Linked DNA regions of Homo sapiens. Changing the gene in region 4 together with the main gene of any one other region gives a genetic interaction. Each region holds a gene or a part of one and is shown on either strand. Other genes may lie near its edges.

What was found.
Region 1: changes in SREBF2 (region 4) and TMEM278 together harm fitness more than expected from each alone (negative genetic interaction), as found in Homo sapiens cells (one large-scale study listed by BioGRID).
Region 2: changes in SREBF2 (region 4) and PELO together harm fitness less than expected from each alone (positive genetic interaction), as found in Homo sapiens cells (one large-scale study listed by BioGRID).
Region 3: changes in SREBF2 (region 4) and PTCHD1 together harm fitness less than expected from each alone (positive genetic interaction), as found in Homo sapiens cells (one large-scale study listed by BioGRID).

Annotation. Positions count from the first base shown.
Region 1 is NC_000001.11:1,424,602-1,428,670, reverse strand, and holds the start of TMEM278 (transmembrane protein 278), read right to left. Parts: upstream 2,801-4,069; 5' UTR 2,544-2,800; coding exon 2,286-2,543; intron 1,118-2,285; coding exon 884-1,117; 3' UTR 1-883.
Region 2 is NC_000005.10:52,794,416-52,797,915, forward strand, and holds part of PELO (protein pelota homolog), read left to right. Parts: intron 1-3,500. UniProt on the Homo sapiens protein: Component of the Pelota-HBS1L complex, a complex that recognizes stalled ribosomes and triggers the No-Go Decay (NGD) pathway.
Region 3 is NC_000023.11:23,383,349-23,386,848, reverse strand, and holds part of PTCHD1 (patched domain-containing protein 1), read right to left. Parts: intron 1-3,500. UniProt on the Homo sapiens protein: Required for the development and function of the thalamic reticular nucleus (TRN), a part of the thalamus that is critical for thalamocortical transmission, generation of sleep rhythms, sensorimotor processing and attention. Can bind cholesterol in vitro.
Region 4 is NC_000022.11:41,874,605-41,878,104, forward strand, and holds part of SREBF2 (sterol regulatory element-binding protein 2), read left to right. Parts: intron 1-732; coding exon 733-847; intron 848-938; coding exon 939-1,120; intron 1,121-2,624; coding exon 2,625-2,817; intron 2,818-3,337; coding exon 3,338-3,500.

The DNA.
Region 1 (4,069 bases), on a different chromosome or scaffold from region 4:
CAGATTAGACGGAAGGGAGTAATTTGATGAGGGGGTAAAAGAAAATGGTGAGGATATGGAGAAGGAATTCGTGGTGAAACTGGACACAATTGTTGAGGGATTTCCAGAGCTGATGAACGTTGTGGACCTGTGGCTTACACCAAACAGGGTGGGTGTGAGCTCGGCACAGCTAGGACGCGCTGGTGAGACCAAGGAACACCAAAGTCAGTGAGGAGATCTTAGTGTCTCCCGGAGAGAGCCGACCGAGGCTGGCGCATGTCTGAATGCGAGCCTGGCCATAGGCTGAGCCCGGCTGCCGCCACCCCTGGGCTTCTGGAACCCTGGGCTTGGCCGAGCGTGGGTGTCTCCCCTGGGAGCCCCAGAGCCCTGGACGATGGAGGCCGGGACCTGGGCAGGCGCGGGAGGCCTTGGGCTGGGGCCTGCGCCCCTCCTCTGAGGGCTGCCTGCCGGGCTCTGCCCTGCCCTGCCCTTCCCTCCCCTCTCTTCCCCTCCCCTCTCCTCTCTTTCCCTCACCTCCCCTCTCTTTGCCTCCCCTCCCCTCCCCTCCCCTCTTCCCCTCCCCTCCCCTCTCTTCCCCTCCCCTCCCCTCTCTTCCCCTCCCCTCCCCTCTCTTCCCCTCCCCTCCCCTCTTCCCCTCCCCTCCCCTCCCCTCTCTCCCCCTCCCCTCCCCTCTCTTCCCCTCCCCTCCCCTCTCTTCCCCTCCCCTGCCCTCCGTGGCGGGGGCGGGGCTGCGGGCGGGGGAGGCCGGGGTCGTAAGCCGGGAGCGCTGCGCGCCCAGCCAGGAAGGGGCAGCGGGGGCGACCCTCAGTTTTCCGGGCCGGGCCACGCGATGGGGTCGCGCGCGAGCTCGGAGGCCTCCCGGGGTTTCGCAGCGGCCGCCGGGTCACACCCAGGCGCAGAGTTGCTCGTCCTCGTCGGGGCGCCCCGGGGGGCGGCGGGGTCCGGGGGTCCCAGCGGGCGGAGGCAGCAGCGGGCGGAGGCGCCGGGCTAGGCGGGCGCGGACGGCCGAGGCGAGCACCAGCAGCGGCGGCAGCGAGAGAAGCCCGAACACGATGAGCGCCGCGGAGCCGCGGTCTGAGAACAGCGCGCGGCACCGGGGACCCGGAGCGGGGTGGACCTGGGGGCCGGGCGGGCCGTCAGTGGGGGGCGGGGCGGGGTAATGGAGGGCTGGGGGCAGGGCAGGGTGATGGAGGGGAGGGGGCTGGGCAGGGTGATGGAGGGGAAGGGGAGGGGTGGAGAGGGGAGCGGGCGGGATGATGGAGGGAAGGGGGAGAAGAGGGGAGCAGGGCAGGGTGATGGAGGGGAAGGGGCAGGGCAGGGTGATGGAGGGGAAGGGGAGGCGCGGAGGAGAGGGTGTGGGTGGGTCAGGGTGATGAAGGGGCGGTGAGGGCCGGACGGTGAGGGATGGATGGGCGGGAGCAGGGTGGAGCGGGGAGGGGAGAGAGAGCGGGGTGGAGGAAAGGATGCAGGGCCACGGCAAAGGGAGACGGAGGGGTGCAGGGCGGGAGAGAGGAGTGGGCGATAGAGATGAAAGAGCGGGGCGGGGCGGTAGAGGGGCCGTGGCGGGCTGAGCAGGGCGGGAAGAGGGAGGGGGGAGATGGAGGGATGAAGGATTAGGGCCTGGGCGAAGGAGAGGCAGGGCGGGGAGAGGGGAGGGGGCGGGCCGCTGTGGGCCAGGCAGTGCTGAGGGGTGAACAGGAGATCCGGGACGCAGCAGGTAAAGGGCTGAGCAGGGTCCCTTGAGGGGAGGCTCAGAAAAAGCGCCCACTGCCGCGTTCTGCCCGCTTCTGCCCTCCTGCGCCCTCTCATCACCAGCTGGCGCCAGCCCCCGTGCCAGCAGAAAGGGGCCCGGGGCCCAGAGCAGGCCACAGCCCACTCTGCAGGTGGGGAAGCCCCACGCTGGCAGGAGGGCCTGGGAGGGGCCTTGTGTGTTTGGGGAGGGGCTGGGGGCTGTGGGTTAGTGAAACTTCAACGACATTTTCATCTTCTTTTCCTGGAACCCCGTTCTCTCCCCACCCCCACCCAGCTGTCCAGGCCCTGGTGGCCCCTGGTACAAGGCTGGGAGGCCTCAGGGAAGGGACAGAGCTGTCCCTTGGGTGAAAAACAAAAGCTCTTCTTTGGCTGTGGCTGGTGGGGGTGCTTGGGAGAAGGGGCTGCCAGGGAGGGGCACACGTGTCTCTGAGGACAAGGGGCAATTCTGGAAGGGGGCACAGTGCCTTCAGACCCAGGGCACGCCCACTCCCCAGGACCCCAGCTAGTCCCCCGCCCACGGGGCACAGGCTCACCCTCGAGTGGCACAGGAATCCCAGGTAGACGACGGCGGCCGCGGGCAGGAGCACCAGCAGGAAGGCTGCGGCGGGCAGCAGGAGGTGCAGCAGGAGCCCGGCCAGCAGCCGGCCGGGCAGCAGCGGGGGCCCCGACCACCCTGGGCACGTCAGGGCTGAGGCCTGGTGGTCGGGAGGTCCCCGGGGCAGCATGGGCGCTGTGTCGGAAGCACCACCTCCCCCCTCCTCCTCCTCCGTCTCCCTCCCCTGCTCACTCATGCTCCTGCCACTGCAGGCCTGTGGCCCGGGCGGTGCTCAATGCAGAGTGGTGCTCTCCAGGGCTGCCCTGGAAGACCTTTAACCCCGCCCCACGTTGCAGCCAGTCCACATCCCCCAGCCAGACCGTGGACCCTGGCTAGGGAGGTCCTGCCCTGATGTCTGTCCCAGAGCCACACCCCCACCTCAGTTTCCCCTCTGCCAGGCAGCTGCAGCTCCAGCAGCGCCAGTCTCCAGCCCCAGCCAGCTCCTGGTGCTCTGGGCAGGCCTTGCAGGGCCCTTCCCACCGGGGCCGCCTCCCTCCCTGTGCCGGGCGGGGCTGCAGCTCCCCCACACAAAGACCTCATTTCAAAGGGCTTGACTCCGGTAGCTGCCCCATCAGTAGCTGCCACCTGGAGGCCAGCCCCCCACCCCCTGTCCCAGCCCCAGCCCCGCTGCTCCCTCATCTGAACACCTTGTCGGTGTCCTCCGCCTGCGTCTCAGAGTGGATGAGAGGGGACCTGGGATGCGCGTGAGCCGCAGGGTGTGGGGCCCGTACACGGCAGGCACTCAGCAGGCTGCCAGGGACCACAGGCACCCTCGCGTCTGAACCCAGCCATCCCGAGCAGAGGAAAGGCAGATTTTCCAGGACAAGAACCTGTGTTCCATCATTTTTTTTTTTTTTTTGGAGACAGTCTCACTCTGTCACCAGGGCTGGAGTGCAGTGGCACGATCTCGGCTCACTGCAACCTCTGCATACCTGGTTCAAGTGATTGTCCTGCCTCAACTTCCCTAGTAGCTAGGACTACAGGCGCTCACCACCGCGACCAGCAAATTTTTGTATTTTTTTTTAAGTAGAGACGGGGTTTCACTGTGTTAGCCAGGATGGTCTCGATCTCTTGACCTTGTGATCCGCCCACCTTGGCCTCCCAAAGTGCTGGGATTGCAGGCGTGAGCCACGGCGCCCAGCCCATCATTTCTAGTCAGGGGCAAAACTTTTCCCATCCAAAACCCCAAGCATTTTCTCTGAACGTTACTCCCGACTCTGACTTTTTTTTGAGACAGGGTCTCACTCTGTCACGCAGGCCGCAGTACAGTGGTTCAATCACGGCTACGGCAGCCTTGACCTCCTGGACTCGATCAGTCCTCCCACTTCAGCCTCCTAAATAGCTGGGACTACAGGCACCTAACCACCGCGCCCGGCTAGTTTTGGTATTTTTTGTAGAGATGGGATCTTGTCACGTTGCCCACACTGGTCTGGAACTCCTGGTGTCAAGTGATCTGCCTGCCTGGGCCTCCCACAGTGCTGGGATGACAGGCATCAGCCCCCGCGCCCAGCACAGTCCCTGACGTCTGTCCGTCTCCCAGGGCTTTATTGCACGTCAGCAGTTCCAGCTCCATTTTCTTTTCTTTCTTTTTTTTTTGTCGAGGAGGAATTTTTTGCTCTTGTTTCCCAGGCTGGAGTGCAATGGCACGATCTCGGCTCACTGCAACCTCCATTTTCCAGGTTCAGGCAATCCTCCTGCCTCAGCCTCCCGAGTAGCTGGGAT
Region 2 (3,500 bases), on a different chromosome or scaffold from region 4:
TAAAAATATCTGTGTAACACATTTTACTTATAATATTTTTGGTGAAATGATCTTATGCCGTATAAGAATACATGCAAATAGAAATACACACACACACACACACACACACACACACACACACTTCTGTTCATAGGATTTTGTTTATTTGGTAGGAGGTTTTGTATTATTTTGTGACAACTGCAAGTAAGCACTTTCCATCATGAGAAATTTAGATAGTGAGTGAGTACAAGTTCCTTAAAAAAAAAAACAAATAAAACAAACAAAAAAAACCACTTTCCCTTTTACCCTTTTGTCTATATTAGCTAACTAATCCTCCCAGTCATCCACTTAGCTTTGCTGGTGGAGGTCACATGGGAACCTTTGCACAATCTGAGGTTTGCACATTCTCTCTAAATAAACAATTGCGTTTATCACTAGATATTCATAATTGGAGCTCTGGCTTCTTATTTTGTAAAGTTCACTTTCCAAACCATGTATAATAAAACTAATTGCCATTATGTGTTATTCTAAAATATTTTAAGAACTTTTCCTGGGGAAGATGTATTTTAAATTACCATTTTCTTACCTAAGCACGGCTATCTCAAATATTGAAATAGGCTTATACAAACTTACCTTAAGAGTAACCTTCTTTTTAAGTTTTTAGTAACATTATAAAACAGAATGTGATTTCCTAATTTTAGAATGTCAGTTACAGACAAGTTAAAAACTCTGAATTAAAGAAAAATTAATAACCATTAATTTTTGCATACTAAAAATATGAGTATGTGCCACTTGTTATGCTGTGTTCCAGGAGAACAAAGACAAATAAAAGGTAGTAAGTCTCTGCCTTTACTGGTGGAAGAGGTAGTAGACATGGAAAGACACAATGGTGGGAGAGGCTCCCAAGGTGCTTTATAAGGAATAACAAAAAGATTAGGTTTGTGTTGCAGGAAAGTAAGCCTTCCAAAATAAAATACAAGATGAAAACAAGAAAATTTATACAGCCCCGACTGTTTAAGGGTCACAAGCTAAGCAGAGGGTATTAAAACAAGATTTCCATCTTTCAGGAGCCCATAATTCCATTTCATGTCATACAAACCATTTCTTTTATATTATTATAATAGGAAAGATAGTAATTCAACTCACCAATGAGGTCCATGAACCATTTTATTCAGTAGAGCTGAATAACATAAATAACATAAATAAATGTACCCCAAAGATTATCCATCAGTCAACTCTACCAAACCAGTTATTTTTCCAAGGCTGAATAATTATGATCATGTTAAAATGAGCTCTTGTCCCTTGTTTTGTCTGATCCAGTTTTCTAGCTTCAAGCCAGGCATTTTTAGAGCTCTATAATTTATTAATATCAAGTATCATAATATCACTAGGACCTCATAAGGATGGTCAAATGAGAGAGCAGGACAAATAATCTTATTTATCATTTAGAATGAAAAATAATTAGCTTTATTGCGGTCTGGGACTTATTTCAAGTTGGTAGAATCCATCCAGGAAAGACCATATTTGAGGTCTGCCAATTCTTGGTCCACAAACAAGAAACTTTGAATCAGTCTTTCACCTCTGAAATGGGTCTTAGAAAAATCAGATTTGAAAGATAGCACGCAAAATTGAAAACAAATATGTTAGGATGAGATTATAGGTGTTGTTTAAACACTTAAAAAATATTACTGCAGCATAATTTTTAGTTAGAAATTTAATTATTGAATTCAATTCCCTCAATTCTTCAGTGAAATAAATTGGGTTCCAGAGAGACTGAGTACTGCCAAAAGTTACAGTAAAAACAATTGAAGAGTAAGAGCTACAATCCAGGATGCTTGACTTCTAGCCCAGTTCTCTTCTTGAGACACTGGAAGTGTCTCAAGAGCAACAAATTAAAAACTTTTGGAGGTAACAATACTTTTTTCCCCTTCTGGAGAGATTAATATAAATAAGACATTGTAGGGAAAATAGATATAATTAAAGTTACTGATATAAAGATTTATACTGATATAAAGTTACTGATATAAAGTTTTCTATTTTAAACAGCCAATACATAAGTATAAAATTAGTATTTAAAGCAAAAGAGCTAAAAGCCCTGGTATTTTTCTCAATACTTTGCTCATTTGGAAAAAAATGAAAATAAATATATAACTACAGCAGTTTCTGAACTACCATTATTAAGTGAAATACAGTCAATAACAATATAAGTAAGTGCCTTAAGAAATGTCTTGAAATGTCTGTAATAATGTTAAAATAGCTGCCATACTTTACATTTGACTCACCTAGCTTATCATTAATATATGAGTGCCTACTATGTGCAAAGGACCTTTAAAAGGACAAAGGAGTATAAAGATAAATCCTTCCAGAGTTCAACAAAAAAGATACATGTTTAAATTAACATGGATTCAAGTTTACATGGTTTCAAGTTTGAGATAACATTTAAGCTGGACTTTAAAGATAGGCAGCACTAAAGGAAGCAGGGATGAAAGGAAGTGACATTTTAAACAGAGAAGTTAGTATGAGTTAAGGTAGCAAACGAGAAAGTTCCTAGCATATGTAGGGAACAAAGGTTACTTTCAAGGTGGAATATAGGGTGCCCTGAGGGGAAAAGTGGGAAGTAAATTTGTAAGGCCAGTGCAAATTGGGATTGTAGACGTTAATTCATAGGGAATGGGAATCCAAAATGAATCAAAATAAAAATATAATGATTGGTCTAGAAATACTAAGCCATAAACAAAATCTGGGTGAAAACATCTAATAGTCAACTACAGGCTTAAATTACTAAGGAAAAAAAAAAGTTCCCAACTATTGCAGTTGTTTCACATACAACAGTAATTCTATGAAAGATTTTATAGTATACTGAATTATGGAGGCACACTGATATTTTTTAAAATGGCCCAAAGTGGTTTGCCTCATAACTTAAAAAAAAATTTTTTTAACCATGGATTTAAGAGTCAATAAGGGTTTTTCACAGGTTTCTAATGTACAGATAAATATATGTATATTTTTCTAAAGTAGAACATTAGATCTTTCTCTAAGAGTATGATGATGACCTAGGCTGGACAGAAGGAAAAAAAAAAACTATGTAGAAGAGAAAAGTATAATAATTTTAAGAGGTGATAAAAGAGCAGGAAAGGGACTAGTGCCTTTCAAATCCTCTAGGTTGGTTCCCAAGCTGTGAGTTTTTGTTTAGCTGGTAAAGGTGACAGTTGAGGGGAAGTGACAGTGGATAATAGCACATAATTTGCAGTGAAGGAGATGATTACAAACATTCATAATATAGGATGGTGGTAGTAGAAAGAGAGGGTATGGAGTTATGCAGGCCTGAATTTCAATGCTAGTCATGTGATCTTGAAAACATTTCTTAACTTCCCCATAGTTGATTTTCTTCTATAAAATTAGGATAACAAATATTTACCTTACAGGGGAGAATTAGAGCATAGGAAAGAACTTGATAAACATTCAATACGTGATAGCTCTTCAATAAAAACCTTTTGTTAAGATCCCACTGTGTGCTTACC
Region 3 (3,500 bases), on a different chromosome or scaffold from region 4:
CAGTGTGAAAACATTTAATATCATGAGTCAATGAAGCTGTTTATAGCATGCCTGGGCAGTGCCAAATTTCATATATGGAAATAAAATTACTACATTCGTCTCAAAAATTCAGAGACTATAATCCATAAGCAAAATCTGCTTAAAGCCTATTTTATTCTTAGAAAAGCTTCACTAAGTAGCTCATGTTTATAAGATGCCTGTTTTTCAATGTCATCCACATAAATTCATGATTTTTGTGTTTTTGAGAAGAAATTTAAAGTGTATATATGTCTGGGTTGAGTAACATCTATTTTCAGGGAGAAGTTTATTAATTGGGTTACATTTACACTTTGCCAGTTATAAACATTTACTTTACAAGCTGAATTGTTTGGTTTATTGCAGCCTGTTTTGTCTCAGAGTTAAGAGTAAGAATAAAGGTGTACTCTGTTTAAGTAAAGACAGATGCTCACATCAGGGGGAACACACACATCTTATTCTTTGTACTAGAGACTTGTCACATTTTGAAAATTCTAACCAGAGCATTGGGTTTTAGTCTTAGGAATGATTTTTCTTCACTAGATAGCTGTAAAAGAGAGCCCTAGAAATGAATTTGCTTATAGCTCTTCCTTGTTTAAAGTATTTAGATATTGTGTGTATGTACATTATATAAGACCAGTGTGTATAAGTATAAATGTGGCCCATAATATATGCTATGGTCATTGCTTAATTTCTTTTCGTATAGAATACAAATGTGATATATAAACATATGTATATATGGCATATCCTATTCAAATATATTTTATATATTTACATACAAAATGTTGGACTCCTATATACCAGATAGTATACACAGAGAATAGCTTCTATTTAAATATTCAAGCAATATATATTACATAATATATGTTATAAACACATTGTATACATATAAATACATAACATGAGCTTACTACATATCATATTGCATATGATATATAATACAGCTAATGTGATATATAATATATATTATGCACATAGGCTATAAAGACACACATACACACAAGATGAATAGTAGGCTGATGTGAAATTTATTTTACTGATGAGGCAAAATAATGTTAGTGTTGCTACACCAATCAGTGTAGAGAAGGGGCTATAGAATCCCTCTGTTGGGCTCCATCTGTCTATATTTTGGTTCTTGAGTAATAAAGTAGCCTTGGTGAAATGCAGGGTTTCCTTGACAATAACTGTGAACCTGTTTCGGTTGTGAGCTTCTGTATATCCATCTGGTCAAGACTGCCCAGCTGTGACTTTCTGAGAGTTTAGTCCAAATGTAGATACTAGGTATTTCTCCCCAGGGTCTATGTTTAGTTCAGTGTCCTGATGTTGCCTCTTGCTGCCCAACCTTTACAGGGTCTGTCACTCCCTCATTCCCTGGGCACGACCGGGTAGACAGACCACCCAGGGGATATCTGGGAATCCTGGGTCAAAGACAAAGCCCCTTTGTATTCCTCTGACTGAGTTCTGCTTTCCTGGACTTGTGCCCCCAAGTCCTGTTCCTGTCTTACTTTATGGTTAAAAATAGAACAATAAAACTTGTTTTGTTCCATTCCCCTAAACCTATTTATTTCCACCTACTCTCACCCTAATATGATTGGTGGAGCATAAGAATAAAAGGGCAAGAACGAATTACAAGCCTAAATTACATAATCTCCTTGTAAATTAGTCCCATAATGACCATGGACCATTACAAAAAACGATATTCGAGAGACAAACTTTGGAAATACTGTAAAATAAATGATCTCTTTTAAAAAAATAGATGTACACAAAAATGTGAACAACAAAACCCTCATAAATCAGTTGTTTTCTCTAGAACATGCTGAACCTATTACTGATTTATATCTAAGCAAAGTCTTTCCATAGCATTCTAATATACTTCTACTCCATCAGGCAAAATTGTCATATTGTTGCAAATAATGGATTTCTACAATAATGTGTTAGGCTGAACCACACAAAATTACCATTTTTGTAGCTCAAAAATGACCAGATAATGGTACCAAGTTTGTAGGCCAAAAATGGTTGGATATTTGCAATTTCATATGGTTTAAATTTTATTATTATCTGACTGATTTTTCCCTCATTTTCTCATGACTTTTGAAATGTATCAGAATACTCATCAGGAAAGCAAATTCTTTCAGGTTTGCTTAAGTTTAGAGAAAAAATAAGAATTTCAATGTTTCAGTTGGAACTAAATGTTTTGCATGAGAATTTTTTTTCCTTCCCTTTTTATGAGCTCCATATACTGCATTATATTTCAAGTGGCATCATATGAGAGCAAATTCTTGGAGAATGGAACCCAATCTTCTGGTTTCTGCTACATATGAATAATGTTAAAATGCACAGCTAAAAGAAGCCAAACTTCCCTGCTATTATTCTTTTCCTAGCACTAATCCGCAAATTAGAAATAATCCACTAATTCTTTCTTCCTTTCACGTCCTTGAATCTGAGTGGCCTGGTTGGATAATTCAAAAGGAAGAGAACACCCTGGATCTGACATCTGACCTCAAAATCCCAAACATTTGAAAAAGGGCTTAAAGAGTATTTTTTATCTCATAAATCTCTGGGGCTCTTGTATCTTGATAAATGCAAAGCAACCTTTATAAACTAGATTGCATGTAGAAACTAATATCCGAACTCTTTCACTACGACTTCAATTCTCCTTTTTAGCTGTACAGGATGTACATGAAGCAACAAACCTTCCAGATGCAGAAGGGAGAAAACTTTCTTTTGGTTCCCTTCTACATCATCTAACATTCTATCCCTTTCCTGATTTGTATCTGATCAGCAAAGCTGTTGAAACATTAAGCCTGTAAGGAGAGCTTGCACACAGAAAACCTATGCTAATTTTAAAAATCATACCCAACTGGAGAATAATGGTGTAAATCTTCATCCTTTAAAGGAAATTCCATCACAGATTAAAATAATTAGCATCATATATTCACAAGTAGCAATTCAAGTAACTCACTACTTGATATCAATATATTTGGAAAGGGTTATTATTTTATGCACGATAAGGGTATAGACCAAATAAACTCTTCTCCAAATTAGAGTAACTAAAAAATGTCGATGAACATTTATAACGCTGTAGACCTTTTAGGATTTCAGCTCTAAATAAACTGATATGACTCATCTGGACAGAGGTTTTGGCAGAAGTGGGATTGTCTAGTATGCACAACACTGATTAAAAACATTCTAAATCATGATGTATCTATGCTTACATCATTGCCAAAATGATTCATCTGTGTAGGATATATTCTTATTGCCAGAACTGTCACATATCATCTTGGCTAGAAACACACAGTCACATCCCATTATGGTGAACTCTTAAGAGTTTATCCAAATTCTTTCCTCTTCTGGAATTTTGTCAGGTTAATACTGCTTGACACATGTGATCTTAAAATTTTCCATTCTAAATCTAGTGTCATTTTGGCATTTGGCTGGATTTGGCCTATGTGACCAGAATCACACTGACAATGTTCAGTTTGTTG
Region 4 (3,500 bases):
ATGCCTTAAGATAACTGTCCAGGCTAGGCACTGTGGCTTACGCCTGTAATCCCAGCACTTTGGGAGGCTGAGGCGGGTGGATCACGAGGCCAGGAGTTCAAGACCAGCCTGGCCAACATGGTGAAACCCCGTCTCTACTAAAAATACAAAAAATTAGCCGGGCGTGCTGGCAGGTGCCTGTAATCCCAGCTACTTGGAAGGCTGAGGCAGGAGAATTGTTTGAACCTGGGAGGCAGAGGTTGCAGTGATCTGAGATCGCGCCATTGCACTCCATCCTGGGCAACAAGAGTGAAACTCTGTCTTGGAAAAAAGAAAAAAAAAAAGATAACTGTCCAACAATGCTGTGGTTGTTTTTTTCATTTGTTTTCGTTAAAGTTTGTTATGGTGCTAGGATTATTATAAGAAGTGGGAACAATAGCTAATATTTATTGAGTGTCAACTATTTGCCAGGCTCAGGGCTAAGCCCTTTACACTCATTATCTCATTTAGCCCTGCTGCAAGCCTGTGATTCACGCGCTTTCATTATCTCTGTGCTAATGAGGAGGAAAGTGAGGTTCTGAGGTATGGAATAACTTCTCCCGAGTGGCACAGCTAATCATTGGGAGGACCAGCATCTGAACTTGGTTTCTCCTCTCACAGAGCCATGCTGTCATCCCAAGTGCTAGGGCTCTGCTCTTTTCACACTGTAGCCTGCACTGGTCTCACTGTGTTTTCACTCATCTTCCTACCCAGATGCACAAGTCTGGCGTTCTGAGGAAGGCCATTGATTACATCAAATACTTGCAGCAGGTCAATCATAAACTGCGCCAGGAGAACATGGTGCTGAAGCTGGCAAATCAAAAGAACAGTAAGTGTGCTGAGAAAAGGCTTGTCAGCCCTGGCCCAGGTGGGGCTTTGTAAAAGCAGATCATTTTCACCAGGTGGGGTTTTCTTTGCAGAGCTTCTAAAGGGCATCGACCTAGGCAGTCTGGTGGACAATGAGGTGGACCTGAAGATCGAGGACTTTAATCAGAATGTCCTTCTGATGTCCCCCCCAGCCTCTGACTCAGGGTCCCAGGCTGGCTTCTCTCCCTACTCCATTGACTCTGAGCCAGGAAGCCCTCTATTGGATGATGCAAAGGTACAGACTTTTGAAATCTCCTGATCCCTGGAATCTTTCCCATTTCCCCTAAGAAGATAGCTGGGAGGTCACAGTTATGAGGCCAGGCCGCATGTTAAGAGGGCCTAGCCTGGAGAAAAACAGGAATTCTGTGAAATTAGCCAGGTCCTGGAGAATAAAGAAAGAAAAAACTGACTCCGGGGGGAAACAGTCCCTCAGGTTTAACTGGTCCTTGCCGATAGGCCCCGTCAGAGAGGAATGAGTGCCAGATCCAGAACGAGAATGCAGAGTAGCTGTTGTGGGGGCGTTGGGAGCTGCTGGAGGCACCTCATTGCTTCACTCTGCCTTTAATGGGCCTGGCAAGACCACTTTGGGAGGCTGATCAGTTGGTTTAGGATGAGGCTGCCTCTGGGTCCTCTTTTCAGAAATGATTACAATTTGCAGTCTAACAGATAACATTTTACCTATGGGCCTTTAATCGTCAAAGCCCCTGGCAATGGTAGTTTAATGGAATTACTTAAGAGACGCTCTGAGCCTAATGATCTTCCTGGGAACCTGTAGAGACCACTGGGTTTTGTACTGTATTTTGACTTCGGCAGTTTCTGACTCTGAAAGCACAAAGTTCCCTCCTAGTGTTTGTTTTTGACTAAGCTGTTTATTGTATCATATACTTAATTTTACTAAGGAAGCTCCATTTTTGAAATATTCTTATAAATGTGGTTCTGTTTGGCAACAACAGGCTGTTTGACATATAAATTGAATTAGCTGGGCTTCTGAGTCATCAGAAGAAAATCTTAAATGGTTTTAAAATATTGAAAAGAAATGACATGCTATATACACATTGGGGCGCAGGGGAGATCTGGCTTCAGCCCTCCTGCTGTAAAATGGAGAGTGGGGTGGGTGTAGACAATGATACAGTTTTAGAACAGGTAAAATCCTTTAGATAGATTCACACTAAATACGGTCTTTGATCAACTTCATTGAGGTGTAATTTAAATGCAATAAAATATACCTACTTTAAAAGTACAGTACCAAGAGTTTTAACATAATGTACAGTGCTATGTAACTGTCACTGTAATCAAGATATAGAACATTTCCATCACCCCAAAAAGCTCTTTTGTACACCTTTGCAGGTAGTTTCCCACACCCCTCTCCAGCCTCAGACAATGACTGATTCATTGGTTTCCTGTTACTTTAGATTCATTTTGCCTGTTCTGGAATTATACAGAAACAGAATCATACAGTGTGTTCTCTTTTGTGGTAGATTTCTATTTTAAAAGAAAATCTCTTCTACCTTTGTTCTTTGGAACATGTACTTTTCTCAGTTAGCAAGCAGGTGAATGTGCCAATGTTTGAGCAGCAGTTAGTGAATTATAGGCTTCTCAGTTCCCATCTGGCCTTAGTCCTGAGTTAATCGACTTGAATTTAAACCTCATAACCATTTCTCAATATATATATATGTATTTATAAAGTGCTGTAAAAACCTATGCAGTATTTATTCCAACCTCGAGGCCTTGTTTTGAAGGTCAAAGATGAGCCAGACTCTCCTCCTGTGGCGCTGGGCATGGTAGACCGCTCACGGATTCTTCTGTGTGTCCTCACCTTCCTGTGCCTCTCCTTTAACCCCCTGACTTCCCTGCTGCAGTGGGGAGGGGCCCACGACTCTGACCAGCACCCACACTCAGGCTCTGGCCGCAGTGTCCTGTCATTCGAGTCAGGTAGGTGGAGGCCCCTTGCCCCACCTGGGCATGGCTGGACCACTATGGCAGGAGAAGGACCCTGTGTACAAACTTCTTGGCTTGGCTACCAGGTCCCAAAGGGCTTTTATAGTGGGCCCCCACCTGCTTGCTTCTGATAGGGACTGGCATAAGTTCCATTTTAGAAGTAACAAGGCAAGCCCAAGTTCAGTCAGAATGAGCAAAACAAATCAGGGACCCACACTACTCTAAATACCCTGGGGTGGAGGGGTGGTACCTATTTGAAGGAGGATATCGTGTTTTTTATCTGAGGTTGCAAAACCAATGCCTCAACCCTTTCAAAACAAAGATTTTTATGGCACTCAGCTCCATAATGAGAAGGGCTACAGTCATTAGCCCTGTTTAGATTATAGAATTATTTGCCCTTTCTTCTGAAAATGAGGTAGAAGACTCTTTCCTGTGATAGTGCTGGGGTCTGTCAGGTGCCTGGCTGCTCCGCAAGGCCTTTCCTAGCAGACTCTGCTGAGACGCTCCTTCTTAGGTTCTGGGGGCTGGTTTGACTGGATGATGCCTACTCTTCTCTTATGGCTGGTAAATGGTGTGATTGTCCTGAGCGTCTTTGTGAAGCTGCTGGTTCATGGGGAGCCAGTGATCCGGCCACACTCGCGCTCCTCGGTCACCTTCTGGAGGCACCGGAAACAGGC